Linked DNA regions of Homo sapiens. The protein of the gene in region 2 purifies or fractionates together with the protein of the main gene of each other region. This does not show direct contact. Each region holds a gene or a part of one and is shown on either strand. Other genes may lie near its edges.

Region 1 (4,728 bases), on a different chromosome or scaffold from region 2:
GAGCCAGTCCGCCCCTTGGAAAAATCGTGTAAAGGAAAGATGATCATACCAGGTCTGTGTCCTTAATGAGCCCACGTCAGGTGGAATTTAGGAAGATAATTATCCTGTCCCGTCCTCATTACCAGCCCTAAATCTCAAATCAAATGATCAAAATCATTTCGTCCTTCATGTGAGACCTTAAAACTTCATAACAGTGTTAAGGAGTAACTGGTCTTCCCATTTTACAAAAGGGGAAACTGAGGCCCTGGGAAAATTTACCTGAGGTTACTCAGCTTAGTCCTAGAGCTGGACTGGAACTAAATCTTTCTCATCCAAGCCTGAGCTTTCCCACTACAACCATACAGCACCACTAAGAACATGTAGTCATACATTGATGGTAGAAAAAAAGTCTATAGTTTATTGTGAAAAATAATTCAAGCATCAGGTTTTTTTGTAAACTGCCAAAGGGCTCTGTTACACTGAACATCGATAGGGAGGCTATGTAAGGGAAAATGTGTAGTGTTAGTATGAAATGTATAAAAGTATACTTGTGTGTTTCATAAACACCTGTTTTCCTAGCTCTAACATACTCGAAACTGTCTATCAGTGTTCACAACCTCCCATACTTGAAACTAAATAGTTACTGAGTTCAAAGGAAACATAAGCTTATCTCAAAATTAAAGTACAAGTAATTGATAAAGGTATGTAAACCTGGAAGGGACTTTAGACAATGCCTACTAAGCCCCTCATTTTACAGATGAGGAATTGGAGGCTCAAAGATTGAGTGACCTGACCAAGGAAACATCGCTAATTTATTTGCAAATTGCCATTTAGGACAGCTCTTGAATGACATATTTAAACTGTTTTGTGTTAAAGAGATACATTTTTTAAAATATAAATTTTAAATTCTGCTCTTGAGAGTATACTATTAACTGATTTTCCTTTTTCTTTCCTCTCCTATTTCACCTTTTTTTTAAAGCCTCCTGTTCAGGTATACGGTATTGAAGGTCGCTATGCCACAGCTCTTTATTCTGCTGCATCAAAACAGAATAAGCTGGAGCAAGTAGAAAAGGAGTTGTTGAGAGTAGCAGTAAGTAGCTTTCCTATTCATTACATATGAAGTTCCTGTTTGTATATTTTTTCCTTTGGTTGTTTGTGCATTCCTAATGAGGTGTATCCTACAAGAAAAAACTGGGAAAAAGCCATTGTCTGTAAACACATTTTTAGTAATAATATTGGGTTTTTATTATAAGACATATAAAAAGAACAAACAGATACATATAAGGATATTAATATTAGGAACCAAGATTAGGGGCTAAGAAAAGGTAGAAATATAAGATTAAAATGGATGGTAATTTAGGAAAATTGCTATTTCAGAAGAGAATTTAAAAGCTACCTTTAAAAATCTATGCTTATAACTGGGCACAGTGCTCACGCCTGTAATCCCAGTACTTTGGGAGGCTGAGGCAGGCAGATCAGGAGGTCATGAGTTCAAGACCAGCCTAGCTGACATAGTGAAACCCCATCTCTACTAAAAAATACAAAAAATTAGCGGGACGTGGTAGTGAACACCTGTAATCCCAGCTACTCCGGAGGCTGAGGCAGAATTGCTTGAACCTGGGAAGCCGAGGTTGCAGTGAGCCGAGATCGCGCCATTGCACTCCAGCCCCGGACGGTACGAGACTCCGTCTCAAAAAAAAAAAAAAAAAAAAAAAACCTATGCTTATGGGCTAGGTGTTTAGAATATATTGTGATTTGGTTTTACTGAGAATTTGTTTTCATGAAACCTTTTCCTCAGGTTTTAATTGCCATATTCTATGCTTGTAGAATCAGAGGAGGCTCAGATATGTCTTACAGGTTGTTTTCATTTGGTAGAGATGCCTTTGCAATTGCCAGAACCCCAGAAGTAACCATGTAGACCTTTTCATTGTTTTGGTAAACCTCTTAATTATTTTGTTCCCAAAATGTGAGGGAAGAATAACAGGGTGGGGCGCGCTGGGCAGCAGAGTTAGTAAAGGGGCATGGGCTTCCCAGTAGTAGTAGAGGACTGACAGGCAAAGACTGTGAGGCTGCTGCAAGATGTTTTTTACTTTTTTTTTTAAACATGAAAAGCAGAATAAATAAACCGTATTACCAGAAGCCTACATTGTAACTGAATAGGAGAATGTCTGCTTTCGTTTTCACCGAATTTTCTAGTTAACAAGTTTCTACACATTCTGTTGCTTCCTTCGATTTTCTAGCGCCACCACTGGCAGTAAGGTCTGCATTAAAAAAGGTGAGGGAGACGCAGTCTGGTATATAGCCTCTTCAGAGGAAGTTTGGTTTTTTCTTCATTTTAAGATTCTTCATTCTTTAATTCACATATCTGCAAGTTTTTATTGTTTAGAAAAAACAATTCATAGGCCAGTTGTATAGAGTAATAATACTTACGTTCTATATTAATCATCGTATGTATAGTCTATAAGTATTACTGTTCTGTACTGTTTATGTTTTATTCATTTTTCACTTGAGCTTCTATTGGAACTTCCGTCTTAACAGGCAGAATAATTTTAGCTCCATATTCCTTCCTTGATCCATTTATCTCTGCAGATAATGCTTAAGGTCTTAGCTGGTGTGATAAACTCTTATGATTCTCTCAGAGCCCAGGAGCCCAGCCCTGTTGTTGGAGACATTTGGGGGAAGGGCATGCAGGAACAGACGGGGTCTCACACAGGCATTTTTGGAGGTGATGGTTATTGTCTGCTACTTGTCAGTTATGCCCATTTTAAACGGAAACAATCATGTTTACAATGGAGAGAATTACTTGGATTGTGGATATTAGAATAGAGTTTGTCTAAAGCCTGGAAGTCAGTCGAGACATGGAGAAAAAGGGAGGCAATTACCTTAAGACACTGAATATTAGCAGGGTTTTGGCACTAAGAGGGAAGGATGATACAAGGATACGCACTGTCCTCTGGATGATGCAGGAGACACAGATAAACATGAAAAACTAGGTAACCCAAATTCCAGAATGCTTTAAATCTGTATATTCCTGCATTTTTTATGGAAAAATGTCATTTCTGTGGGGTCACTCAAGTGGAAATGTTAGCATTGGATGATAGTATCTGACCAGTATCCTGGATCAGAGGCAGGATTCTGGCCAGGAGCCTGGGAGGAGGTGCTAGGAGCGTAATTGAAAAGCATAGAGAGGTGTGTTAACTGAAGGTGCTCAACTGGAAACTGCTGTTCGTTTGTTGGAACTCTGGAGCAACATGCTGGAAGCTGCACTTGGTCACTGAATTCAGACACTGTGATACAACAAAATGAGAAGAACGTTGTTTCCCATGATGGTTGTGCTCCTGTTTTATTGTCCACTCTGTCTCCCAGACTCTTTGGGGCCGCTCTGGCAGCACCAGAGGCCTCACAGAATCTGCTGGGTTCCCTGGACTCTGTAAGAGGCAGGGCCCCTCCAAGGGAGCGGTGCGGAGGCCTCTGTGGTCAGAGCACAGTTGTGAGGTCTGCACTCTAGAAATAGCACTGCTAGAAAACCAGACGACTCCTCTCTTAAATATATTAAAGTATGCAGTCTAATGAAGGTTTGGCTGTTTAGTGTTTTATAATCTTTCTTGAAAAGCAAAAACAAATTTAAGAAAGTTCGTACAGTATTTTTAAATTTTTTTGAGGAACATCATTCTATATAAAATCCTGGTGCAGTGCACAGTGTATTCTGAAAGGCAGTCAGAAAATTGTTTGATTATAATCTTTTTTTCATATGTTCTTCGGCAGTGCTAATTTAATTCATAAAATATTTAATTCATAAGAAAGTGTTTGTATGGCCGGGCACAGTGGCTCATGCCTGTAATCGCAGCACTTTGGGAGGCCGAGGTGGGTGGATCACTCGAGGTCAGGAGTTTAAGACCAGCCTGGTCAACATGGCGAAACCCCGTTTCTACTAAAAATACAAAAATTAGCGGGACATGGTGGTGCAGCTATTCGGGAGGCTGAGGCAGGATAATCGCTTGAACCCGGGATGTGGAGGTTGTGTGAGCCAAGATTGCGCCACTGCACTCCAGCCTGAGCGACGGAGCAAGACGTTGTCTCCAAAAAAGAAAGAAAGAAAGTGTGTGCATGGCACATCCTTCATTTGTGCTCTAAAAAATTTAAGAAATTATTTTTTGATGCTTTCAGCAAATCCTGAAGGAACCCAAAGTGGCTGCTTCTGTTTTGAATCCCTATGTGAAGCGTTCCATTAAAGTGAAAAGCCTAAATGACATCACAGCAAAAGAGAGGTTCTCTCCCCTCACTACCAATCTGATCAGTGAGTATTAGAACTTTTTCATTTGAGGTGTCTTGAAACTATGACTGGAAATGTGGTCCATGGACTGTGGGCGGCATCAGCATCACCTGGGAGCCTGTTGGCAGTGAAGAATCTCAGGCCTCACAGCAACCTGCTGAATCAGAGTCTGTATCTTAACCAGCTCCCTAAGTGAATCGTTTGCACATTGAAGTGTGAGGAGCATCGTCTAAAGGATACTAGGACCTAAGCATGTCTAATTGTATAGTCAGTAGTTTCAACTGTGGAGGCGGCCAGTGTGATACCTACCAAGAAAATGGTTCGTGGCCTGTGGCTATACCTTGATCCTTGGATACATTTGCATTCTTGGGTACATTTGGACTGCTTTTCTCTTTTTGAGACAGAGTCTTACTCTGTCACTCAGGCTGGAGTGCAGTGGCACGATCTCAGCTCACTGCAGCCTCAACCTCCCAGAC
Region 2 (4,258 bases):
CATATGTAACCTGGAATCCACTTTAAATGAACTCGGTAAATAATGTCTTGACTCTAGGCCAGTCATTACCTGGGACAGGTGAGGGGGAAGGGCAACCACCTGACTATGTCACTGTCAACAGTGCATCCTTGGGCTGAGGTTTTCATTTTACAGTGGGGTTCAGGCAGGGCTAATTGCTGACCCAGGACTGTGGCCTGGAGGGATTTCAGGGCCTTCCCATGGGCGGACTGACAGTAGAAGACAGCCCCTGTCAGTCTATCTGAAGAAATCAGTGCCAGATAACAATGGTACCCCGTGGCTGAATTCTGGCTGGGAGTGAAATGGTGATGGAGTGTTGGTCTCACCTCAGGTCAGCAGGGAAAACAGTTGGGAAAATGGTCAGCCCTCCTGAAATGCAGCAGGTGGTGATTTTTGTGTTTTGAGTCTTGGCACACCTTGCTGTTGAAGCAGTTGAACAAATAAAGGAATGGAAAAACAGGTGCTGACCCAAAGCTTGAGACAGCTGGTTGGTTGCCCTTCGTTGAAAACCACACGGCCAACCCAGAGTCTTCAGGTTTGGGGCGCAGTTAAGCTGTGGGGCACCCTGCGTAGGCTCACTGTGTTTCCAGAGGCTTTATGACTGCACACTGGGGCCGCCTGAGACCCAGGTTTATATGTGAATTTAGCAGACAAGTAAAAAGTGCTGAGTCACATTATAAATGCAAATTTGGAGGAGGATTTGAAATGCTTTCATTAAGACACCAAAGCAGGACACTTGTAATACAGCAGTGCCAGGAGAGGACAACCCTGCCATTCTTTGGGGACCTAGATAAAATGGCTCCACTGTCCCCTGCTGAGAGTGAGCAGGCCATCAGCATCGCGGTGGCCGGGGCTCAGCTGCCTGACGTTTCTTTGGCCCCTGTACTGTGTTGATTTCACACACTGGGCACAGCCATGCTGGCGGTGTCTTGAGAACACAGCCATGAAAAGATGGAGAAAGCAAACACAGTTTCTGTCTTGGAGCACCACATGGATTTAGATTCAGAGTATGATTTATTTTGTTTTGGAGAGTTTTATTATGAATTTTTTTTCTCCCTTCTTTGCAAAGACATTACAGAGCTAAACCCAAACAGCTGAGCCTATCAGGGCCTTGGAAAAGCATTTTTGCCTGAAACTTGAGTTTTTCCTAATGAAGTGACTTTCCTCTTCCATCTTTTTTGTTTGCTTGGTTTTCTCATAGGTCATTTGATTGCCCGCCTCAGAACGATGGATCTGCATCTCTTCGACTACTCAGAGCCAGGGAACTTCTCGGACATCAGCTGGCCATGCAACAGCAGCGACTGCATCGTGGTGGACACGGTGATGTGTCCCAACATGCCCAACAAAAGCGTCCTGCTCTACACGCTCTCCTTCATTTACATTTTCATCTTCGTCATCGGCATGATTGCCAACTCCGTGGTGGTCTGGGTGAATATCCAGGCCAAGACCACAGGCTATGACACGCACTGCTACATCTTGAACCTGGCCATTGCCGACCTGTGGGTTGTCCTCACCATCCCAGTCTGGGTGGTCAGTCTCGTGCAGCACAACCAGTGGCCCATGGGCGAGCTCACGTGCAAAGTCACACACCTCATCTTCTCCATCAACCTCTTCGGCAGCATTTTCTTCCTCACGTGCATGAGCGTGGACCGCTACCTCTCCATCACCTACTTCACCAACACCCCCAGCAGCAGGAAGAAGATGGTACGCCGTGTCGTCTGCATCCTGGTGTGGCTGCTGGCCTTCTGCGTGTCTCTGCCTGACACCTACTACCTGAAGACCGTCACGTCTGCGTCCAACAATGAGACCTACTGCCGGTCCTTCTACCCCGAGCACAGCATCAAGGAGTGGCTGATCGGCATGGAGCTGGTCTCCGTTGTCTTGGGCTTTGCCGTTCCCTTCTCCATTATCGCTGTCTTCTACTTCCTGCTGGCCAGAGCCATCTCGGCGTCCAGTGACCAGGAGAAGCACAGCAGCCGGAAGATCATCTTCTCCTACGTGGTGGTCTTCCTTGTCTGCTGGCTGCCCTACCACGTGGCGGTGCTGCTGGACATCTTCTCCATCCTGCACTACATCCCTTTCACCTGCCGGCTGGAGCACGCCCTCTTCACGGCCCTGCATGTCACACAGTGCCTGTCGCTGGTGCACTGCTGCGTCAACCCTGTCCTCTACAGCTTCATCAATCGCAACTACAGGTACGAGCTGATGAAGGCCTTCATCTTCAAGTACTCGGCCAAAACAGGGCTCACCAAGCTCATCGATGCCTCCAGAGTCTCAGAGACGGAGTACTCTGCCTTGGAGCAGAGCACCAAATGATCTGCCCTGGAGAGGCTCTGGGACGGGTTTACTTGTTTTTGAACAGGGTGATGGGCCCTATGGTTTTCTAGAGCAAAGCAAAGTAGCTTCGGGTCTTGATGCTTGAGTAGAGTGAAGAGGGGAGCACGTGCCCCCTGCATCCATTCTCTCTTTCTCTTGATGACGCAGCTGTCATTTGGCTGTGCGTGCTGACAGTTTTGCAACAGGCAGAGCTGTGTCGCACAGCAGTGCTGTGCGTCAGAGCCAGCTGAGGACAGGCTTGCCTGGACTTCTGTAAGATAGGATTTTCTGTGTTTCCTGAATTTTTTATATGGTGATTTGTATTTAAATTTTAAGACTTTATTTTCTCACTATTGGTGTACCTTATAAATGTATTTGAAAGTTAAATATATTTTAAATATTGTTTGGGAGGCATAGTGCTGACATATATTCAGAGTGTTGTAGTTTTAAGGTTAGCGTGACTTCAGTTTTGACTAAGGATGACACTAATTGTTAGCTGTTTTGAAATTATATATATATAAATATATATAAATATATAAATATATGCCAGTCTTGGCTGAAATGTTTTATTTACCATAGTTTTATATCTGTGTGGTGTTTTGTACCGGCACGGGATATGGAACGAAAACTGCTTTGTAATGCAGTTTGTGACATTAATAGTATTGTAAAGTTACATTTTAAAATAAACAAAAAACTGTTCTGGACTGCAAATCTGCACACACAACGAACAGTTGCATTTCAGAGAGTTCTCTCAATTTGTAAGTTATTTTTTTTTAATAAAGATTTTTGTTTCCTAAAAATGCATCAAGTCTCAGTTTTCAAAGTGTGTTTTGGCACTTGAATAGCACACATGATAATAATTCATGGATATATATGGCACACACAGGCCACCTGCATGAACATGCTCAGAAAAAGAGTGCTGCTGTAAAGCAAAAGCTACCAGGTTAACTTGTTTGAAATGATATAAAAAGAAAAAATCATTTGAGCACACTGCATGGTTTTTAAAAAAATTTTCAGGCAATAGTGTTTTTGGTGTGGGGGATGATTGCTAGGGTCCAGCTAGGAGAGAAGGCTGGCACAGAGAAGGTGCCACTTGCTTCTACTTCCTGCTGGCCAGAGCCATCTCTGTTCTGAACCTGTCTGAACTCTCCGTCCAGACAGGAGAGTTTCAGGGTGCAGGACTGGTGTCCTCATCTGTACCACCTGTGTGCTTCCAGGGCCAGTGGCACAGCCCCTTAAATCTCATCTGCTAAGGTAAACACCTCCAGGGGCAATATTTCCTATTGAGAGTTTTCATTTAAACCATGCCAATCAGCTACCCCCTTGAGGCCACACAATGAGCGAATCCCCAGCTTGCGCATGTCCTTACTAGTGGTTGGAAAGAGTGCTCTCAGAATGGCCAGTTCCTGCTGTGCCCTCTCTAACTCTACCTGGAGCCACAAGAATGGCGGAGACTTCAACAGACGAGTCAGCTGGGCAGGGGCTCAGAGAGGGGCTGGGCTCCCAGCACTGCCCTCACCACCTCCACCTCTGCCAAGACCTCTCTGCACAGAGAGCTGTTTGCCAACCCAAAGGCAGACCCAGATGCTCGTCTGACCTGTGGGCTTGGGCGCTGCTGCTAGGTTGGAAAGCACCTTGTGCAAGTCCTTGCCCCACAGACCCACAATGGGCAGCCCTGCAGTCCCCAGGGGCCCATAGACCGAGTGCACTACAGGGGAATCCTATTTCCTGCAAAGGTCTTCACAGCTTAGAGTTTTGAAACTAGGGCTGTAACTTACTGGAAATATGTTCTTGATACACATGTACATCCTCAGGTGCATATATACACCTGGTCTTCAGTGGGATTCTGGTCCGATAACAATGATGTAGATAGTGGGATAACAGCATACAAGAGGCAAAGATACCAAGAAGAAGGGAAAATAAG
Region 3 (4,728 bases), on a different chromosome or scaffold from region 2:
TGAATAAATACAGAAGAAAGATTGACTTGGCACTTTGAAGAGGTCCCTGGATTAAGGCAGTGGAAGAGATAGAGTAATGGAAGATTGTAGTCAGAAAGGAGAATTGATTGTAATAAAAGAGGACAATAGTTGTGGCAAGTTTCAGATTTCACTGGCTGAAGATAAAGCTCCTTGAGGTTAAAGATCAATTATATAACACACTATTATCACTCTGTATATGAATAGATTTTTAAAAAATAAATAGAAATAGAAATAAATTGGCTGGGCGCGGTGGCTCACGCCTGTAATCCCAGCACTTTGGGAGGCCGAGGCGGGTGGATCACAAGGTCAGGAGATCGAGACCATCCTGGCTAACATGATGAAACCCCGTCTGTACTAAAAAATACAAAAAATTAGCCGGGTGTGGTGGCGGGCGCCTGTAGTCCCAGCTACTCGGGAGGCTGAGGCAGGAGAATGGCATGAACCCGTGAGGCGGAGCTTGCCATGAGCCGAGATCATGCCACTGCACTCCAGCCTGGGCGACAGAGCGAGACTCTGTCTCAAAAAAAAAAAAAAAAAAAAAAAGAAATAGAAATAAATTAAAAAGTTAATATTTTTTTCTCTGTATTCCACCATGGGGACCACTGGGTCAAAGGGCCATGTTAGTAATTTAGGGGAGGGGTACAAAGCCTGTTAAGTTTTATAATGGCAAGATTGCATAAAAAGAACTGACTCCAAGGTTCCAACTGGAATGTTGGTGTTGATGACTTCCGCAGTCTTGTAATCTAGGTGCTGACTCTTGTCACCTAATCTGTAATGTAAACCTCTTACCTGTGATTGTAGAAATACATAGCAATAAATACTTGGCTTTCATTTTTCAGCATAGAAATTTCAAGAAATGGTTTTTCTAATATATTACAAGGGTTCTTTTAGGTGTCAACCCTTTGGTCAGCACCCAATAAAATAAATTGTTTTATAACAATCTGGATAAGTAAACTGCTATTTCCTTTACCTATATGAAATAAAATCAGTAGAAAGATTAGTAAACTGTCACAGGAGTGGAATTTAAAGAAAAAAAAGAGATTAGGCTGTTACCCTTGTATATGCTGGGGGAATGGCAGGTTTACCCTTTTAATCTTGGAAATTTTATTAAGGAGCTATTTTTTCCTCAGAACGTACATGGTGACCAGCCCCATGAGTAAATTTTAAAATAATTTTTCTGTACCTATCATTATGTAGAGGTGATGTATATAATAATATAATTTTAAGAAGTGACAGAGGCTGCTTTTCAATTTTGTTAAATTCTTAGAAATACAACAGTTTGAGATAAGGTTACTTTTTCATTATAGTACTGGCCTTTGGATTCCTTTCCATGGGTGATTCAGATGATATTTTAGTACAGTACAGAATTCGACAGTAATTTTGTAGTTATCAGGTAGATAACTAATACCTTCCTGGGAACTTAAAAAAAAAAAAAAAAAAGCCTAGGGATGTGTATGTGTGTTTCTTGTCAGATGTGGAGAAGGATGAGGAGTGAAGCTGGAGGGGAGGGGACAACAAAATCCATTTTCAGATGTGCTTTCATATGCTAGGATTCAACCTACAGCAAGTTTTAATGGTGTTATAAACCCCTGAAAATGGGAGATAACTGTGGAATTGCTGACAGTTCCCTAACTATAGCAATGCAAGTGTGCTGCATTAATACAATATTAACCTCAAGGATAGAAGATTTCAAGCCATAGTATATTGATCAAAGGATTGAACACAAAGAATACATTTTTATTTTGATAATTTCTTGCCTGGAGAGGTCTTTGAAAAAGTGACAACCAGAAGCAGAACCACATGATAGCATTGGTATTAACTAAAAACAAAACTTTTTAGTATTGTGGAATTTCATAAGCCTTTGATGTATATCTTTATCCATCTTGGCTATTTTTTAAGCTCTTTAGGACACAAAGCATCATAGGCTCTGTGTGTGTGTGTGTGTGTGTGTGTGTGTGTGTGTGTGTTTTAAGTAGATATGATATTATCCCTCAGAGACCTTACTTTTAAAAATAGGTTAATGCATGAGATACCACAATCTAAATGTGATCAAATAAGGTTATCATTAATATGTTTTCTGAGACATTTAGGGTTGGGGCAGAGAACTGAAGAGGTGAGTTTAGAAAAAAAAAAAAAAAGAGTTGAGGTAAAAGTGGCAGCAGTGACCATGATAGCTAATCACTTAATATACCTTTTCACCATTGCCCTCTTACGATAGCCCTTACACACACAAACACCTGCACACTAAGTCTTCCCTTGTGTTATGGAAATAAGGTTTGAGAGAAGAAATTTTGATACAGAGTAAACTTGACGTAAACCCATCAAGTTCTATGTACTGAAACTGCGAAGTGTATCTTTTAAAACACAGTTAGGAAGGAGTTCTGTGGCAGGGAGAGGCCTACCTGGATTTAAAACGTTACCATCGATATGGATACACAGAAAACTGATACTGCTAGTTGTTTCAGGGGGAAGGAACTAGATAATGCCTGTCAGGAATAAGAAGGAAATTTACTTTTATTTGTAATAACTTTTTGGTGATTTTAAATTTTATATCATGTGTACAGTATTATCTATTACAAATTAAAAAACAGAAAAGTAAAACTTTAACATAGATAATTGTGCATTGTCTTCTAGATTACTTTCTCTTTTTTTCCTTCAGGCGTTTGCAATGGCTGCTACTGTGAACTTGGAACTTGATCCCATTTTTTTGAAAGCACTAGGTTTCTTGCATTCAAAGAGTAAAGATTCTGCTGAAAAGCTAAAAGCACTGCTTGATGAATCTTTGGCTCGGGGCATTGATTCCAGTTACCGTCCATCTCAAAAGGTACTTGAATGAATAAAAAGCTTGGAGAGAGTTTTGTAAGGCCTGTAGTACTACATTGATAACATATAGACCATCTCAAAACAATCTCTGCCGAAATAATCTTTCCTTGTAGCATGAAGAAATTATATTCTTTATTTTCTTTTTTCCCTTCAAGTTTTCAGAGAACTGTTACACCACATAGAAAAATCAGCTGGGGGTGCAGGATATTCTGTTCTACTACTTTATGTGTATATGAATTCACTTGTTTACGACTTACTTTAATTTCCGATTCTTTGTGATCAGAATTTTTTTTAAGCTGCTGAATGTAACCACAACTTACTTCTAATTATTGCCTAATATTTTAAGGATTAAAAAAAATCAAGTAAAAGGACAGATCTTTCAACAAAATAAATTGAATATGGGTAGGATAATTTAAGAGAAAAGGAGGTATGGATGAACTCTGAGAACTGTGTAGCTCCTGTCTTGATAATAACAAAGCAGCCAATGGCAGCTTTATGTGAAAAGAATATATGTTTTGATACCAAACACACCTGTTTTAAATCCCACTTAAATCTTATAATTGTGTGATGATAATAGACAACGTATCTTGATGTCCCAGGCACTTTTCTGAGTAGTTTATGTGAATAATTAATTTTAATTATGATAATGATCCTTTAAGATAGATAACTGTTTTCTTCATTTTACATAAGGAAACTGAGGTACATAGAAACTTCATTTCACTTAGTCTGTTTATTGGTAAAATGGGGATAATAAGAACTACTTTGCAGAGTTGTAAAAATTGAAGGAGATCCAGTAAATGAGTTACCTAGTGTAGTACCTGCCTGGTACATAATAGGCTGTCACTGAATGACAACTCTTATTATATTCCCTAATACCTACTAAGACATTCTATCAAATCCTTCTAAGCTCTGACCCTCAAACTCCAAATCACTCAGGTCTGTGGACTTAGATCCCAAACTGAGAAGGAGAAAATAGAACATGACTAGCTCAAGTCTAACCAGAATCTGAAGCTCAAGAGAGGATCTAGTCCCAGGCTCAGAGCCCAAGTAAACACTGGCATTTTGTCCCCAGCCTTCTTTCAATACTAGGTCTAGTACTCCGAAGCCTTTTTATTGTATTTTGAATAGCAGAACCATTGTGACTTCATTTCTTCTATCCATTCTCATTGCAGTAGGTTCAGTGAGTTCAGATCGACCAAATCAATATGGCTCTACAAAACATACTACCAAATTCATTCCACTGTGGGTGTTGGTATTGTCCAGATAGGGAAACCTATTATTACTAAAGAAAAAAAATTGTTTTAATGGGGTTCTAAAATGGAAGTTTATCTCTTAAAGAACATGAAAAATTTGTTGTGATTAAAAAGCACGCTGCCCTTAGGTTTCTAGCTAGAGTTCATTTCTCTTGATCAGTTTTCAGAAACTACTTTGTTATAGGTTTTTAAAGCCCAGGTCCATTTAATTTTAGCCTTCAGCTGAATATTTTCATCACTAGATTTGTGTAAGAAGAGTGATTTATGCCAGTGTTTCTCAAACTTTAGCATGGATAAGAATCACCTGGAGGTAATGCTTACTAACATTACCAGGTCTCCAAGTGTATTCTAACATGAATATTGGTTGATATTCATTTACATTAATGAGGAAGGCAAATGTGAAATAATGGAGTTAAAACTTAACTCATCCGTCAACAACTAGAACAACTTTTTTGCTGAATTAGGTAATAGTTTAATACTGCATGACTTTGTCTTCAATTTTTTAGTTACACACAATACACGTTTTTGTTTTTCTGTTGTTTTTTGTTGAGACAGGGTCTCACTGTGTTACCCAGGCTGGAGTGCAGTGGCACAATCTTGGCTCACTGCGCTCTCTCCCTCCCAGGTTCAA
Region 4 (4,728 bases), on a different chromosome or scaffold from region 2:
TTTTCTTATTAACATTCTTTGATGATTCTTATGGTGTTGTTACAGTAAAACATTTCTAACAATTATTCTAACAATTATTCTTGATGGTGTATATGAAGAATTTATTGTCGTGTATTTGTAAGCTGCTATGTGCAGAAGAATTTCAGTCAAATAAAGTTGGTAAGATAGGTATGTAAGTAATATGAAAAAAGATAGAAGGTGATGAGTGACTTAGGTATAAATTAAGTACAATAGAAATGTTGAGGAAAGAAAAATTTCTTGTAATAGAAATCGGAAGTACAAACTGGGCATGGTGGTGTGCATCTCTAATCCCAGCTCCTTGAGAGGCTGGTATGGGAGGATCACTTTAGCCCAGGAGCTTGAGGCTGCAGTGAGGTGTGATCATGTCACCGCACTCCATCCTGGGTGACAGCAAGACCGTCTCTCTTTTTTTTTTTTTTTGAGACGGAGTCTCGCCTATGCTGGAGTGCAATGGCGCGATCTTGGCTCACTGCAACCTCTGCCTCCCAGTTTCAAGTGATTCTCCTGCCTCAGCCTCCTGAGCAGCTGGGATTACAGGTGTGCGCCACCATGCCCAGCTAATTATTTTGTATTTTAAGTAGAGACGGGTTCTCACCATACTGGCCAGGCTGGTCTTCAACTCCTGACCTCTTGTTCGCCCATCTAGGTCTCCCAAAGTGCTGGGATTACAGGTGTGAGCCACCCCACTTGGCCCCGAGCGAGACCCTCTCTCTAAAAAAAAATAAATAAATAAATCATAAACCTGTGGATTATTGTAGCATTGTTTCTCATCTGTCAAAAATATTTCATGACTATGCATAGTTTGAAAAGGCAAGTTTGTCCCTGGGCAATTTTCAAAATATTTCTTTAATGTGTTTTCACAATACTGTTTACCTAATAAATCTTAAGTTTTTAAAAGCAAAATTAAGCCAGTAATTTGAGTCCAATTCCAATCTCTTATGAGTCATTGCTTAAATTTCAAAAGGGTTTTATTTTTTTTTTAGGTTTGTTCTGAGTAATGAATACCCTATTACTATGATACTAGTATCTTCCTTAATTATCCTACTCATTGTCTCAACATTCTGACAGTTGGATTGAGCATATTCGTAAGTAAAATTGTTTTAACTGTATGATGTACTTTGATGTTAAGGTCCGAGTCCCCACATACCTCGGTAGATGTGTTCTTACAGTTTTGTATTCCCTTGAAATGTAACTGTTCTCTATGTTACAGCCTTTATAACCTTCAGTTACTTGAAATGAACAAATTCATTCAAATTCCAGCACTTAAAAGTTTTAAATTACATTTTGGATAAATACCAAAGTGTTTTGTTGATGATGTATGTATAAACAAATTGTAAATATTAAACGTTAGTTGTTACGATTAGACCTATATAAAACATGATATGCAGTCTACTGAATAGCTATCAGCCTCTAACATGTTTAGTGTCATTTAGAAAATGCTTTCTAAATTGCCAAAAGCTGATTGTCTAGGTGATAACAAATTTACCATTTGGAGGAAGTTGACTTTCTCATTTTCATGTCTTCATCAGTCTTACTTGATGAGATTCATTCTTCTAGTCAGAAGAGAGTTTAGACTGCTCAGTTTACTCATATTTTGAGTTAGCTTTTCTATTTAGAGTTCACTTGGTTGTGGAATATTCATTTATAATTTGAATCTACGTTGTGTAATGGGACCTAATTTTTTTTTCCTTTGTTTTTGTTGGAGTCTCGTTTTGTCACCCAGGTTGGAGTGCAGTGGCGTGATCTTTGCTCACTGCAACCTCCACCTTCCAGGTTCAGGTGATTCTCCTGCCTCAGTCTCCCAAGTAGCTGGGATTACAGGCATGCTTCACCACGCCTGGCTAATTTTTGTATTTTTAGTAGAGATGGGGTTTCACCATGTTGGCCAGGCTGGTCTCAAAACTCCTGAGCTCAAGTGATCCTCCTGCCTTGGCCTCCATAAGTGCTGGGATTACAGGCGTGAGCCGCTGAGCCTGGCCCCAGAGTTTGTTTTGTTTTGTTTTCAAGACAAGATCTCACTCTATTGCCCAGGCTGGAGAGCAGTAGTGCGATCATAGCTCACTGCAGCCTGAACTCCTGGGTTCAAGCTATTCTCCTGCCTCCATCTTCTAAAGTGCTGTGATTACAGGTCTGAGCCATGATGCTTGGCCTGTGTTTTTGTTTGTTTGTTTTGGGGGACAGGGTCTTGCTTTGTCACCAAAACTGGAGTGTAGTGGTGCGAACATAGCTAGCTCACTGCAGCCTCCATCTCCCACGCTCAAGCAATCCTCTCACCTCAGCCTTCCAAGTAGCTGAGACCGCAGGTGCGTGCTACCATGCGTGGCTAATTTTCTATTTATATATTTATTTTTTGGTAGACATGAGGTCTTGTCATGTTTCCCAGGTGGTCTTTAACTCCTGGGCTCAGACAGTCCTCCCGCCTCAGCCACCCAAAGTGTTGGGATTACAGGCGTGAGCCACCATGCGTGGCATAATTTTTTTTAAGTAAATTATTTTTTTATCTTGAGTATAGAAGTGATTCATGTTCATTGTGGAAAATATGAAACATATAGAAAAACAGAAAAGATTACAAAACATCTAATCTGAAATGGTTAAGATTTTGATGAGAACAGTCTCATCTCATTTCCGTATATTCCTGCCAGCCTATCCATCATTCTTCGTACATGTTTATCTACATTAAAATTGGTGTTATATTTTGGAAACTTTTTGTTTAACTACATTGTGAACATTTTTCATGTTTTAAAATGTCATTTTAATGATGGCAGATCCTATTCAATAGATGTACACACACCTATTTAACTGGTCCACAATTGTTGGATATGTAGGTCGTTTCCTTTCTCTCTTTTTTTTTTTTTTTGGCTACTACTTAATAGTTTCTCTGTATAGAATGTGGTATTTTGAAAGTGTATCAAGCTTTAGATTGGTAGTATTCTTGCATTTAATAAAGGGCAGTGGCCTTTGTTGACTGACATGACAATATTTTTATAAAATTTGTTATTTGCTTTACAGAAATTTTGAAAATTATTGTAGAAATGTTTTTACCTCATATGAACCACCTGACATTGGAACAGACTTTCTTTTCACAAGTGTTACCAAAGGTATAATACTATTACCTGAAAATACATGTTATAAGGAATCTAGCCTCAGTCTTAGATGATTTATTATTAATTATGGCTCTCTTTTTCTAATATATCAAATATATTCAAAATAAAAATAAGGAGTAAGTAGATCTCATGTGAGACTATAATGGTGTTAGTGTGATCATTAGGCAGTTAAAAACTGTTACAGGCTGGGCACGGTGGCTCATGCCTGTAATCCCAGCTCTCTGAGAGGCTGAGGTGGGCAGATCATCTGAGGTCAGGAGTTCGAGACCACCCATGGTCAACATGATGAAACCTCGTCTCTACTAAAAGTACAAAAAATTAGCTGGACATGGTGGCAGGTGCCTGTAATCCCAGCTACTTGGGAGACTGAGACAGGAGAATTGCTTGAGCCTGGGAGGCGGAGGTTGCATTGAGTCAAGATCGTGCCATTGCACTCCAGCCTGGGCAATAAGAGCGATGCTCCGTCTCAAAAAAAAAAAAAAAAAAAAAAGAACTTATATTTTCAGATTGTGTGGTTCCTTTACTAACTGAATTTAAATTATTTGTAGTCAATTTTAAATGCTCTTGTATTTTAAAGCCACTGTACTCCAGCCTGGGTGACAGAGTGAAACCCTTAATTCAAAAAAAAAAAAAAAAAAAAGAAAAGCTGGAATATTGGCAAAATCAAGTAACTAAGAGAAAACATTAAATTCACAGAATACATTATTACATTTTAGATATATATGGTATATGTTTTCTCTGAAAAGCACAAGCATACCTTTTTTGTTTTAAATGGAGGGAACTAAAGATACTTTGGTGCCAAAATGAAACATTATTTGTAATTAATCTCTTATTGAAATGGGTTTCTAACTTTAGCTTTGAATCGTAATCTTTCAAATTTCTTGTACTCATAGTCACTTGATGATTCTCTATCTGAAATATTTCTTAGAATTTGTTCTTGACCACCAGAAAAAGATTCAACTGTTACATAGATGAAAATGGATGTTGAGTGTTAACAGGCCTATGGGAAACAGTATTTTCTTTAGCTACATTGTATTGTTGACTGTGTTGCTATTCTTATAATGTTTAGGTCATTTAAATTGTTAGAAAGATCCAAGTATTAAGATCTAGGGTGGCTAACTTTTCACAGACAAAAAGCTTGTTTGTAAGGTCATTTACTATACCCTTAATTCAGGAAGGTTAGCTTGAATTGGGTCAAAAGGAAACTGGTTAGAAAATAAGTGAGTAGTGAATAGGCGATTCAGTGCAAATTCCTTCCAGAAAATACCCTTGTAAATGACTGTATGAATGTGGATTCTTCAAGACAGTCAAATTTATTGTGCGAAAGTAATACTTTTATTTTTTGCATCTCTAAAACATGAACTTTGAGTGATTTTTTAAAAAAATTGATGCTATTAAATAGATTCAAACCATAGAAATGGAAAATAAATTTCTGTTTGGGGCTTTTGGGGGGATTATGTTGTAAAAATACCTTTTCTCTGTATTTTGTGCTTAATTAGGTACAATTGTTAAGCTAGATGATAGCCTGTGGATGTTACTAGTGCAAAATCAAATTATCGTATTGTGTTTTCTCTGTAAAGTTTTGTCTTGTCTTTTCTAGTGA
Region 5 (3,396 bases), on a different chromosome or scaffold from region 2:
TCAAGTTCTGCTTCCTTTTCCAAGTCCTGGTCTTGGGCCAGAAACTAGAAGCCGCAGGCATCCCTGTGGATGTGATGGGACACTTCCCATTTCTCCAGGGTGGGATCTGGGCTCTCTGACTACTTGGGGGCACAGACGCAGAGCCTAATATACCTCTCTACTGTCACTACAGTTTAAAAAGAGAAGATAAAGGAGAAAAGAAGAGAAGGGAGGGGAGGGGAGGAAGAGTAGAGGGGAGGAGACGGGATACAGGAGGAGAGAAGAGAAAGGGAAACAGCTCAGCTCTTTGGGAAACATTTTCTTCTACAACTGCTAACAAAGGCCTCCCCCTGGAATCCCTGCTGGTCTTTCTCCTGAGGAAGCACAGAAGGCCGGGCGGCAGGGCACAGTAGGCAGCCTCACCCCGCGACAGCAATGCTGATGCTAAGATGCTGCCCCGATGACAGTCTTGCAGCAATGATGGCCAAAATCACCGCTTCCAGGGGCAAACATGTCTCAGGAAACTTGAGGGCAATGCTTCTGTCCTGTGTCCTATGCTAACGAGATGGCCACTCTGGTCCGAGGCCTGGAGCAAGGGGCTGACCTCTGCATGCCATGAACAGGCACATGGGGGGAAGCTGGGGATCCCGCCAGCAGTTCAGACAGAGGCTTCAAGTCAATCTAGGGGCTTGTTGCAGTTATTTTTATTTTATTATTATTATTATTTATTATTTATTTTTTATTTTTTTGAGACAGAGTCTCACTCTGTCACCCAGGCTGGAGTGCACTGGCATGATCTCGGGTCACTGCAACCTCCGTCTCCCGGGTTCAAGCAATTCTCCTGCCTCAGCCTCCCGAGTAGCTGGAATTACAGGCATGCACCACCATGCCCAGCTAATTTTTGTATTTTTAGTACAGATGGGGTTTCACCGTGTTGGCCAGGCTGGTCTTGAACTCCTGACCTCAGGTGATCTGCCCGCCTCAGCCTCCCAAAGTACTGGGATTATAGGCATGAGCCACTGCACCCAGCCTCATTATTATTATTTTTAGACAGGGTCTCACTCTGTCACCTGGGATGGAGTGCAATGGTGTAATCACAGCTCACTGCAGTCTCAAACTCCTGGGCTCAAGTGATCCTCCCACCTCAGCCTCCTAAGTAGCTGGGACTACAAGCGTGCACCATCACGCCTGGCTGATTTTTAAATTTTTTGTAGAGACAAGTCCTCGTTATCCTGCCCAGGCTGGTCTCAAACTACTGGGCTCGAAGGATCCTCCCACCTCGGCCTCCCAAAGTGTTGAGATTATAGGCATGAGCCACCAGGCCCTGCCTCTAATTTTTTTTTTTTTTTTTTTTTTACTTTTATTTGCTTTTTTGTTTTTTGCTTTTTTGAGACAGGGTCTTGCTCTGTTGCCCCAGCTAGAGTGCAATGACACAATCATAGTTCACTGCAGCCTCAAACTCCTGGGCTCAAGGGATTCTCCCATCTCAGCCTCCCAAGTAGCTGGGACTACAGGCACAAGCCACCACACCCAGCTTGCAGTTATTTTTAAATGCTGAGATTTATGATGCGGGAGGAGGGGAGGGCTGCCCTGGAAAGCCAGAAGACCATCAATTCACACCTGGATTTCCAGCTTTCCCTTCCTCGTCGTCTCCTCTCAAAACACTTGTGCGCGCTCTCTGGTGTCAAGGGCTGAGGGCATCAGGACACCCATTCCTGCCCAGGCCTCACCCCCCCTCGCCAGGCTAGCCCCTTCCGAGACACAGGGCTGAGAGCAAGGCCAAGGCCTCGGGTTTCGACCAGATGGCGGCTTCCTACCTTACTCCTGAAGAGGGGCTTGGCTCCAGGCCCACAGTACTCGTTGTAGATGAGCTTGAAGAGGAAGAGGTGGAAGAGGGTGATTAGGGAGGCCACGCTGAACCAGAAGAGGAAGGGCAGCCCGGGGTCCTGCTGGGCCATGTGCTCATCATGGGCCAGGATGGCCTTGAGGTGCAGCGTGTGCCGCAGGTCCTGCAGGTGTGTGAGGTCGGTGGAGATGTAGAGCAGTGGCGTGATGGGCTGTGTCACCATGACCGAGAAGGTGTGGCCCGTGGGCGCCGAGGTCAGCTCCACTGGCTCGTCCAGGCAGCCTGCCTTGCAGGCATAGATCTTGACAGGCTGGCCACGGGACTCCACGGACACGTGTAGGTAGGGCTTGCCCTCGGCATCCGCCAGCACGGCCAGGTTGATATGGTCGTTCTTGTAGCGGATGCCATGCAATGCATAGCTGTTGTGCAGCACGTCGGGGTCGGCCTGGAACTGGAGGTGGTTCTCTGTGAACTGCAGCCCCCCAAAGCTGAGCACCATCCCCTGCAGGATGCCTGGGGCACCCACCTTCACCAGCCCCTTGCAGCCACGCTTCTGGAGGGTCAGCCTCCACAGGTCAGAGAGCTGCAGGATCTGCTGGACGGAGGACAGCCGCCCCGGCCACAGGTTCTCGGCGTGCATGGTGGCGTGCCCGCTGAAGCAGTGATCTTCATAGTTGAGCGTCGACTCCATCTGGTCTCGCTCCCTGTGGCTCAGGGAGGGGCTGAGCAGTGGGGCTGGCGAGCAGGAGAGCATGTAATAGAGCGTCAGGTTCACGGTGAGGCCAGACGGCGTGTGGGTGTCAGTGATCTTCTTCATTTCCACTCCTGCAACACCATGAAAGCGGCATGTTAAGGGGGAAGGACAGCTGGGAGGCAGAGCATACGAAATAAAGACCAAGGGCAGCAGAAGAGTGAGGTGTTGTGCCTTAATGATAAAGACAGTGGTGCCCATCTCCCTAAAGTATAGAAGAAAGTCAGCCTGTCTTGTTTACACGACCAACTTGAGCCTGTGGGCCTGAAATCTAGAATCCTGTTAAAAAGCAGCGGGGCCTGGTGCCAGAGCCCAGAGGAACACAGACTTAGCCAGGACTTGGCACCAACCCTATGGTCAGACATCCTGCGCCAGATCAGTCACCAGTGCTGAGGCCAGTCTCAGGCCACTTCTCCTCTCTGTCCTTTCTCTCTCCAGTCTTGTAGCTTTATGTATGTATGTATTTATTTGTTTATTGAGACAGAGTCTCACTGTGTTGCCCAGGCTTGAGTGCAGTGGAACGATCTCAGGTTACTACAGCCTCCGCCTCCCGGGTTCAAGTGATTCTCCCGTCTCAGCCTTTGAGTAGCTGGGACTACAGGTGCAGGCCACCACCCATGCCTAAAACAGCCCTGGCAGAAGCATTCAATAGACACTTGCTGAATAAACACGTGCTGGGCCCCTTTGCTACTGATGGATTCAACAGCCCTAAGATTTAAAAACATACACACACACAACTTTGTTTCTGTGAAGATGACCATCCTCTCGCCGGGCGCGGTGGCTCACGCCTGTAATCCCAGCACTTTGGGAGGCCAAGGTG
Region 6 (4,728 bases), on a different chromosome or scaffold from region 2:
GAACTCTGAGCAGAGAAGCTGGAAATGAGGGGTAAGTTTGACCACCAGACATATTGTGGAGGACTAGTGTCAGGGGAAGAGTATGGTGCTTGGTTCAGTGATGAGAGATTTGATCAGGGCACTGGCATGGACTGAGCCATGGTCCTGGCAGATTCATTTGGCGGCATGCTGAAGGATTTAGATTGGCTAGGAAGAGCTAGAGGCAAAGAGACCTTGTAGGCCTTGGTACTTTTGAAGGGGACATGCAAGAAGGGCTGGGGGGTGCCAATGGGAATGGAAGAAAGGAGCAGTGGCACTAGATACTGCAGGATTGGACCCCTGAGAAGCTGAAGATGAGTGAGTCTGGATAACCAGGAGAATGGCTGCACCATGCAAACAAAGAGCTGCTGAGAGGAAGAGGAAGAGTTGTTCGTGACTGTTATGCTCGCTGCTTTTCTCACTATAGGACTTGGCCTGGATGATTACCTTCTACGTCCGCTTCTTCCTCACTTATGTGCCACTATTGGGGCTGAAAGCCTTCCTGGGCCTTTTCTTCATAGTCAGGTAGTATTCGGTGGGGGCGGATAGGGACTGGTGAAGGAAATGTTGGGGAGTGACCAGTCTGGTCTAGGGGCCGTGCTGGGGCTTTGGGTAACAGTGGGTGTTTCAGGAGTTGGCTTGGGAAAGTAGACAGGCTGGAGCAGTTATCTGAGGGGGGAATCAGAATTCTGGGCTCTGTGTGTACTGTTTTTGTCTGTGTAATACATCTAACAGGTTCCTGGAAAGCAACTGGTTTGTGTGGGTGACACAGATGAACCATATTCCCATGCACATTGATCATGACCGGAACATGGACTGGGTTTCCACCCAGGTAAGGGACAGTCACTCAGAAGACTGGAGCATAACACAACTATTGAAAAGGATGCGTAGGTGAAAACAGCAAAAACAAAAAGTCCCCCAAACAGCATTTTCTCATTAGCCTGAGGCTCTTGTTCTGCAACCATGTGAAGGGAGTGACCAAGACAGTCTCATGTCCCTTCCTCAGCCAGCTTTACCTGGAGAATGCTGGGCTGGCCTTTCCATCTGATATTCAACATGCTCTCCCCTGACCTTTTCCGCCAGCTCCAGGCCACATGCAATGTCCACAAGTCTGCCTTCAATGACTGGTTCAGTGGACACCTCAACTTCCAGATTGAGCACCAGTGAGTAGGGAGCCTGGGGAAGCAGGGTCCTGGGGAGGGTGTAAGTGTTGGGTACAGGTGGGAGCAGAGAAGCAGGAACCACTGACTCCCCCGTTCTCCCTAAAGTCTTTTTCCCACGATGCCTCGACACAATTACCACAAAGTGGCTCCCCTGGTGCAGTCCTTGTGTGCCAAGCATGGCATAGAGTACCAGTCCAAGCCCCTGCTGTCAGCCTTCGCCGACATCATCCAGTGAGTATCTGAGACCAGGAAGATGGCTAGTAGGGAGGGAAGAGGGCAGGGCAATGGAAATGATGACATGTAGGGTGGGGAGTGAACAGAAGGTGTTCCCAGTCGTGTGGGATGGAGTTCACCATGGCAAAGGCAGGATTCTTTATTGGACCTGTGGCCAGGTCAGGCCTTTGCCCTCATTGGGGTTCCCCTCAGTACCATGGCCCAAGCTAGCTTTCTCTAAAGTAGAGGGGAGGAAAACCTCCAGATGGAAGAAGGCCTTAACCTCACTGCTCCATCTCCGGTGGGTTCAACTCTGCTTGTCTCCCTCACTGTCTGCCCCCATTTTGTCCCTGCAGCTCACTAAAGGAGTCAGGGCAGCTCTGGCTAGATGCCTATCTTCACCAATAACAACAGCCACCCTGCCCAGTCTGGAAGAAGAGGAGGAAGACTCTGGAGCCAAGGCAGAGGGGAGCTTGAGGGACAATGCCACTATAGTTTAATACTCAGAGGGGGTTGGGTTTGGGGACATAAAGCCTCTGACTCAAACTCCTCCCTTTTATCTTCTAGCCACAGTTCTAAGACCCAAAGTGGGGGGTGGACACAGAAGTCCCTAGGAGGGAAGGAGCTGTTGGGGCAGGGGTGTAAATTATTTCCTTTTTCTAGTTTGGCACATGCAGGTAGTTGGTGAACAGAGAGAACCAGGAGGGTAACAGAAGAGGAGGGACCTACTGAACCCAGAGTCAGGAAGAGATTTAACACTAAAATTCCACTCATGCCGGGCGTGGTGGCACGCGCCTGTAATCCCAGCTACCCAGGAGGCTGAGGCAGGAGAATCGCTTGAACCGGGGAGGTGGAGGTTGCAGTGAGCTGAGATCACGCCATTGTACTCCAGCCTGGGCGACAGAGCAAGACTCCATTTCAAAAAAAAAAAAAAAATCCACTCATATAAAAGGTGAGCTCAGCTCACTGGTCCATTTCTCAGTGGCTTCTCCATCCTCATTTGCAAACCTCAGAGGGATAAGGCAGTTGAACCTGATGAGCAAGAATTATAACAGCAAGGAAACATTAATGCTTAGAATTCTGAGATCCAGCACAACTCAGTCTGTGGGAGCTCAGCTCGCTGCCCAGGGATAGGTATGACCTATGTCTGCCTTAGGCTGCTGGGAGATGCCATTCTCCAGTTTCAGAAGCAGGCAGGGCAAAGGTCAAGACTGTGGTATTGGGGTCTTTTGGCTCTGAAGGATCCTGGAACCACTGATTTTGGTTTATTCCCTCCAGGGTCTAAAGAGAACAAGAGGTGCTAGCTCTTACCAAAACAGATGGTAGAGAGAGTTGCTGGCTATTTAAAAAGCTCTTTCATCTTTTAATTCACCTCTTCTTTTCACCTCTTTAACCACTCCTCAGGAACAGAACACTTCTAGGACTGGGGGTCTTTTAGCTCCATAAGCAAGTGAGCAGATGGGACAAGTTAGTCTTTTCTCCCTAGAAACAAAGGGGATGCCCAGTGGTTTCCCTTTGCTTCCCAACCTAAAATTTCAAGTTTAATAAAATAGCAATTAGCAGAAGTGACCAAATTGGGAGATAATTATCAGTCATGAGGAAAGACACAGATTTCGGTCATAAAGAATGTAAGGGCTATAAGTAGAAACTTTCTATAACCTAAATGATGTTATAGAATTATTTTTGAGCAGGAGCAGAAAGATTAAATATGATCACTTCATACTTCTAAATCAGAAATAGGAAGATTAAAACCACAGAACAGTTTGTGATTTCTATTGCTGTAGCTAGGTATCTTACTCTGTCCACTCTTGTTCAAGTATCTAACTCTTCTGGAAACCAAATAGGCTTTAGAAGAGATTATCCTATATTCCTATCAGTATAATACTAAAATGTAACTTTTTAATCATCTGGTTTTTAAAAGATAAACAGTTTAGCCCATCTCTCCAGAGAGCAAACATAGGAATATGACTCAGGAGCCTCCTAGGGCTTATCATCAGCCCTCACACCCGCTTCCCCCTCCAACCCACAGCCTTTGCTTCCAGGTGGCAGGATTACTACTTTGCCTCTTCAGCAGCATCTACTCTAGGCATATTGATCATTTTAGACACTGGGAGAAGAGAACCTCAAACTAGGAGGAAAAGACAGAGCCTCCACTTAGTTTTGGGAGGGGATGGCAGACAGTCAAGGAGATGAGCGTCCTAAGGCATGTTGGGATAGGGTCAGATGCACCACCCATGGAGAGGTTTGTCAACACAAAGACATGGAAGGTTAGAGGTTTGTCAACAAAAAGACATGGAAGGTTAGGTTTGTCAACACAAAGACATGGAAGATTAGAGGTTTGTCAACACAAAGACACAGGAAGAATGGGCTGCAGAAGATTTAGATGTTTTCCATTTGGGCACATTTTACTTAGCTGGAGAACTAGGTTTAAAACAGCCTGGGTAGGAAAATTAGAAGCAAGCTGGATGCAGTGGCTCATGCCTGTAATCCCAACACTTTTGGGAGGTCCAGGCAGGAGGATCACTTGGGCCCAGGAGGTCAAGCCTGCAGCGAGCTGAGATCACACCACTGCACTCCAGCCTGGGGTGATAGAACAAGACCCTGTCTCAAAAAAAAAAAAAACAACAAAAACTTAGAATTGAGGAGTTGTACCTCCATTGGCTTCCTCACTCCAAAATAGGTGCTGATCCTTCCTATTCCTATTCTTTGCCACCTTTTGGGTGTGGTGTCACCAGCCTGTTTAGCCAAGTAGCTTTGGGCATAGGCTGCCCAATCTGAGCAAACACCAGTGAGGCTCTATTGAGCCAAGACCAAGTCCTCAAAGCACCTGAACCACTGTGGCCTTCTCAGCCTACAGCAGTGTGGTCTCTTACATGGCCACAAAGGGACACACAGTGACAAAAGGCTCGGAATGTTACAATGGTAAAATGAGTGATCTCAAATCCACTGACAGATATAAAATAGGCTTAGAGAGGAAAAGCTGCCTCTGGTCAAGTAGATCATGGCAGCATGAATTCCAACTCACTTTTTTACAACTCCAACTTCTATGTTTATCTTTGTTACTTTCACTTTTTTACAACCTGGCCAGAGGCATTTTTTAAATCAGGCCCAATATCAGTATTCTTTTTGTGTGTGCCAATTTTGTTATCACATCCCTATGAAGTTGAAAAATAAAGTTAATTTTGACCAAAAGACTTCATTTGTAACCCATGATGTTCATCTGTGTGTGCACAGGATTCCTGAGTGCCTCTGCTACGAGTTACTGTTCACCTCTCTGTGCTCTTAAGTTCTTGAATCACTAGACTCCCCTTTGTATTGGGCAGAGGAAGAAACA
Region 7 (4,690 bases), about 34 Mb from region 2:
ATATTTAAAGAGAGAAAGGAACACTCAAGTAAGTGTGGGCTTCAGTGGGAATTATCACAAAACATTGGCAAGTATTTTTATTTAAATTATTTTCAAATTTGACTTCTACAGCCAAGTGGAATTGGTAGGCTGTAGCTGTTACACTGAAATTTCTAGTCTTTGTAAGTGCCTCCTGAAAGTCATTTAAAATGGAAAAATATTTCAATGAGCTTTTCCTTTTTTCATATTTATGGACATGAATATTTTATTGGAGATCATTAACTCCTAGAATTTGAGATTATATTTCCATACAACATTTTATAAAGTTATGTTGAACTTACTACCTGTTATGTGCAGGTTATTATGTAACTATTCACAGATTGCTTCATATATTGCTTTATCTTCCCATCTAACTTCTTAAAGTTAAAATCCGGACACACATGTTGATTATCTAGACCAGTCATTCTGGAAATTGTAACACTCCCACATAAACCCCAGGAGACTTTTTCAGAATGCAATGTTTCTAAATGTACTGTTACTGGCAGTTTACTCTCCAGCATATAAGGTTGCATTTTAACTTTTAGATTATGAACTGTGCAAACTTTACCCAAAACTATCTTGCATGATTCCCTCCTAAATATATTCCTTGATTAAGTAAATCTGGCAAATCACTGTTTGAGCTAGTTACATAAAATTTGTTATCAAGAGAAGGCTTTTCTACAAGTTTCCAGATTAACATAAAGAAAAGAGGGAATCACAGGGCATTTAAGTGCACCTTCCCATTACTTTCCTTAAATCACCTCATAGTTAGGCTGGGCGCGGTGGCTCACGCCTGTAATCCCAGCACTTTGGGAGGCCGAGACGGTGGATCACGAGGTCAGGGGACTGAGATCATCCTGGCTAACACGATGAAACCTCATCTCTACTAAAAATACAAATAATTAGCCAGGCATGGTGGCACGCGCCTGTAGTCCCAGCTACTCGGGAGGCAGAGACAGGAGAATCGTTTGCACCCGGGAGGCGGAGGTTGTTGCAGTGAGCCGAGATCGCGCCAATGCACTCCAGCCTGGGCTACAGAGTGAGACTCCATCTCAAAAAAAAACAAAAAAAATCACCTCATAGTTTATGTCTGACTTACTCCAAACCTCAGTTATCTGATTTGTAGTCTGTGTCAGGAAAGTTTTCTTCATATCTATTCTGTCTCCCTCCTCTTTGATTTTAAATTTTTTTCTTTTACCCAGTAGGACAAAAAAGAGCAGTTGGTCATCATCCCCAATATTCTTAGTCTTCAGTATGCTTCAGGCCTCTCAATGAACACTTAAGTCTCAATTCTTCAGACAAAATTGCTTAAGCTCTTCTCCTCAGTCCTATTTTAATGACTTTATATTTAAGAATATAGAATTATATTTTCTTTTATATTCAAATTCATTACTCCAGTTAAGTAATAGTTTGATAGTTTGATAGAATCGAGAGTTAAGATGTTTCTATTTGAAAGTGGATTCAACCATCAGACCACCAGCAAATCGGCACTTAATTTTTGTGTTATCTAACATTTTCTATTGTGGAATTTTATGATTTTATATTCTCATTAGTTATAACTAAAAAGCCATGCACACAGAATTGTATATCATTTTGCCATTAAAATTTTTTAACATATTGCAGCAAGCTTAGTTTTATGATTGAGCCACAACCTTTTACATATTTTTTGTATGAAATATTAAACACTAAATGCAAGATTAACTTTCAAAAGCAAACCCTACATTAATCAGGTATTATCTATGGACATTTTTGTAGACCACTTTTGAAATACTTATTATTTTGCAACATAGACTGGACTATACAACTTTCATTTAACTTTTAGGTGACTGATTTAAGTTGAGTGTGCATATAGAGAAAAACCTAGAAATTTATCTCATGGCAGATACATTTGAAAGTACTTCAGAAGAATTTATGCTGTATATTAAAACTAGGCTCAAAATAAATCTATCGTATCTTTAAAAGTCCAATTCTGTTATTACTGTGATGTTTGTAGTGTTACTATTAAACATTGTGAACATACACATTTTTAAAACAACTTGAAACCCATTTTAAAATCTGGGTAAGAGAGAAGGAATCTTCAGAACAAAATCACATCATTAGGGTGTCCAGTTTATGATTGAATTTTTAAGCAAATTACTGTATTTGAAACTACAACTTGATTTGGTTTTCAGTTTTAAAAGGCAACATGTGGGTTTTATCCATTTTATTTATACCTTTAGATTTCAGAAACATCTTCATGTTTTAGATGCATTCTACAGACATCATGTTACTTAAAAACTCAGGGCCCCTTTCATCCCTTTGTACACTGAAAAAGTTCAATTGTTAGCAAGTAAGCAATTAGATCCAGTTGAATATTTAAAGTGTTTGTTGCACAGTTCATTTAATGTTTCATCTTATTTGACTTTTTCACATAGATATAATATCAGATTTCATTAATTATAAAAAGTTGCCCAGTTCTGTAATTACTGAACAGAGGGAATGACTCAACTAATTGGCTACATGTTGCAACAAATTTAGGCCTTTAGAGTTGAAGCACTGACTTAAAACGACTTACATTTCTGTTCTTTGGTCAAATGACCATACATGATATGGGACAAATTGTTTCATTTTGTTTGTTTTTTAATAAGGGAACTTGGTAAAGTAGTTCCTGTCAGATAGGATTTTCTCAAGAGACAATTTAACGTTATAAAGCCTTCTAAAAGTGAACTAAATATTTTATAACTTTAGTAATAGCTTGGATGGTTTTGAGAAAATAACCTGTATTTATCACATTGTCAAACAGAATTTTTCTTTGAATCAGACAAGTTCAAGCTCTAAATTGATGTGCTATATACTTAAAATCCTAGGAAGTTATCTGTAACCAGTCTCTTGTCTCAGGCTCTTCACCTTGTTACCAATCCTCGTAAGTATGTAAAGGAAACATATTTTTAAAGAAGCTTAACAGTAAGAAAAAATTACTAAAAGATGCAATTCAAAGATAGGTCCCAGTTTAACACTGAATTGCTTGACTTCTGTGGCTTTTCTTTTTCTGGCCACATTTATTTATTTAAGCAATTTTTGTATGCCTTGTTATTTCATTTCCATAGAGATTATATTGTATCAGTGTTTATGTAAGCTGGAATCATCCTCAGTTTTTTGCTGATAATTTTTCAAATAAAGATACATGGATAATTGTAAAATACACTAACTCTTAGGGTGTTGTAGTAGCTGAAACATGGAGATGCGTAGCTGTCATGCTTTTTCTGAATGGACAGGAGAAACATAAGCTACGGAGTATTCACTTCTGAGGATGCTTTTCCGGAAAAAGAAAGGCTAGAAAATACTCGCACTTCCTCAGAACCCTCTTTCTTGTTAACGGGTATCTTTTGTTGGTGTGTTTTGCTCTTACATTACAGATAGACTATCATATATGACTTTATGAATAATTTCAGTTATTTTGCTTTTGTATAAGCTGTCTGAAGCCTTGCTATGCTGTATAAGTTGTGTTTGATGGATCAGTGTGAGTATAAAATAAAGCAAATCACTTTTCTTTTGTATTATCTATGGATGCCACTATGAAAGCTGACATTAAGCCACTAAAGAGTTTTCTATGAATAAGTGTAAGTAAATGCTTTGATATATATAAACCTAAATAAAAAGATTGTATTGATACAGAGACATTGGAGAAGGAGATTTTAAGGCAGTTCTTTAGGTTTAAAAAGGCTTGCTGTAAAATGGTGCGTTATTCCGTTTATTAAAGATCATATTAATGACAATAGTAATTGTGTTTTTTTATTTTAAGAGGTCACCAGAAATTGTTAGTATGATAATTAGGGAGTTTGCACTAGAATAGTAAATGTTCTATCTAATATGACTTTCATAACTCAGTATGATACATCAAAAAATAAAAAATAAAAAAAAATAAATAGGCCGGGCGTGGTGGCTCACGCCTGTAATCCCAGCACTTTGGGAGGCCGAGGTGGGTGGATCACGAGGTCAGGAGATCGAGACCATCCTGGCTAGCACGGTGAAACCCCGTCTCTACTAAAAATACAAAAAATTAGCCGGGCGCGGTGGCGGGCGCCTGTAGTCCCAGCTACTCGGGAGGCTGAGGCAGGAGAATGGCGTGAACCCGGGAGGCGGAGCTTGCAGTGAGCCGAGATCGCGCCACTGCACTCCAGCCTGGGCGACAGAGCGAGACTACGTCTCAAAAAAAAAAAAAACTAAATTTAGTATAATAGTTGCTATTTTCTGACCATGTATTATATGCCAGGCACTGTGTTAGTTATTTTACATACATTGTTGATAATTCTCACAACAATCCTACATAATATGTATTACTATCCCCCTTTTATAAATGAAGAAACTGAAAGAGAAATTAAATACTCTGCCCAGTCACAGAACTGGCAAGTGAGATTGTAACGCATTTTACGTTTTGCTTTGAACTGCAATTTTCAAGCTCTCCTTGTGGCAAGAGAAACTCAAAAATAAAAATAAAACTGGCCGGGCGTGGTGGCTCACGCCTATAATCCCAGCACTTTGGGAGGCCGAGGCAGGTGGATAACGTGAGGTCAGGAGTTCGAGACCAGCTTGACCAACATGGAGAAACCCCGTCTCTACTAAAAATACAAAATTAGCTGGGTGTGGTGGTGCATGCCTGTAATCCCAGCTACTCGGGAGGCTGAGGCAGAAG

Evidence for each region.
Region 1: the proteins of ACKR3 (region 2) and ATP5PO purify together in Homo sapiens (affinity purification with mass spectrometry; 4 studies listed by BioGRID and IntAct, with this or other methods). This does not show direct contact.
Region 3: the proteins of ACKR3 (region 2) and INTS12 purify together in Homo sapiens (co-immunoprecipitation; one large-scale study listed by IntAct). This does not show direct contact.
Region 4: the proteins of ACKR3 (region 2) and FIRRM purify together in Homo sapiens (co-immunoprecipitation; one large-scale study listed by IntAct). This does not show direct contact.
Region 5: the proteins of ACKR3 (region 2) and KIAA2013 purify together in Homo sapiens (co-immunoprecipitation; one large-scale study listed by IntAct). This does not show direct contact.
Region 6: the proteins of ACKR3 (region 2) and FADS1 purify together in Homo sapiens (co-immunoprecipitation; one large-scale study listed by IntAct). This does not show direct contact.
Region 7: the proteins of ACKR3 (region 2) and BMPR2 purify together in Homo sapiens (co-immunoprecipitation; one large-scale study listed by IntAct). This does not show direct contact.

Annotation. Positions count from the first base shown.
Region 1 is NC_000021.9:33,908,630-33,913,357, reverse strand, and holds part of ATP5PO (ATP synthase peripheral stalk subunit OSCP, mitochondrial precursor), read left to right. Parts: intron 1-958; coding exon 959-1,069; intron 1,070-4,146; coding exon 4,147-4,276; intron 4,277-4,728. UniProt on the Homo sapiens protein: Subunit OSCP, of the mitochondrial membrane ATP synthase complex (F(1)F(0) ATP synthase or Complex V) that produces ATP from ADP in the presence of a proton gradient across the membrane which is generated by electron transport complexes of the respiratory chain.
Region 2 is NC_000002.12:236,579,221-236,583,478, forward strand, and holds the end of ACKR3 (atypical chemokine receptor 3), read left to right. Parts: intron 1-1,219; 5' UTR 1,220-1,245; coding exon 1,246-2,334; 3' UTR 2,335-3,134; downstream 3,135-4,258. UniProt on the Homo sapiens protein: Atypical chemokine receptor that controls chemokine levels and localization via high-affinity chemokine binding that is uncoupled from classic ligand-driven signal transduction cascades, resulting instead in chemokine sequestration, degradation, or transcytosis.
Region 3 is NC_000004.12:105,697,967-105,702,694, reverse strand, and holds part of INTS12 (integrator complex subunit 12), read left to right. Parts: intron 1-2,423; exon of another isoform or gene 2,424-2,680; 5' UTR 2,681-2,689; coding exon 2,690-2,845; intron 2,846-4,728. UniProt on the Homo sapiens protein: Component of the integrator complex, a multiprotein complex that terminates RNA polymerase II (Pol II) transcription in the promoter-proximal region of genes.
Region 4 is NC_000001.11:169,797,853-169,802,580, forward strand, and holds part of FIRRM (FIGNL1-interacting regulator of recombination and mitosis), read left to right. Parts: intron 1-1,004; 5' UTR 1,005-1,066; coding exon of another isoform or gene 1,067-1,106; intron 1,107-3,030; coding exon of another isoform or gene 3,031-3,053; coding exon 3,054-3,119; intron 3,120-4,728. UniProt on the Homo sapiens protein: Regulates PLK1 kinase activity at kinetochores and promotes faithful chromosome segregation in prometaphase by bridging kinase and phosphatase activities.
Region 5 is NC_000001.11:11,920,840-11,924,235, forward strand, and holds part of KIAA2013 (uncharacterized protein KIAA2013 precursor), read right to left. Parts: intron 2,651-3,396; coding exon 1,797-2,650; intron 1-1,796.
Region 6 is NC_000011.10:61,799,485-61,804,212, reverse strand, and holds the end of FADS1 (acyl-CoA (8-3)-desaturase), read left to right. Parts: intron 1-445; coding exon 446-543; intron 544-753; coding exon 754-850; intron 851-1,101; coding exon 1,102-1,181; intron 1,182-1,286; coding exon 1,287-1,412; intron 1,413-1,750; coding exon 1,751-1,802; 3' UTR 1,803-4,586; downstream 4,587-4,728.
Region 7 is NC_000002.12:202,563,977-202,568,666, forward strand, and holds the end of BMPR2 (bone morphogenetic protein receptor type-2 precursor), read left to right. Parts: 3' UTR 1-3,773; downstream 3,774-4,690. UniProt on the Homo sapiens protein: On ligand binding, forms a receptor complex consisting of two type II and two type I transmembrane serine/threonine kinases.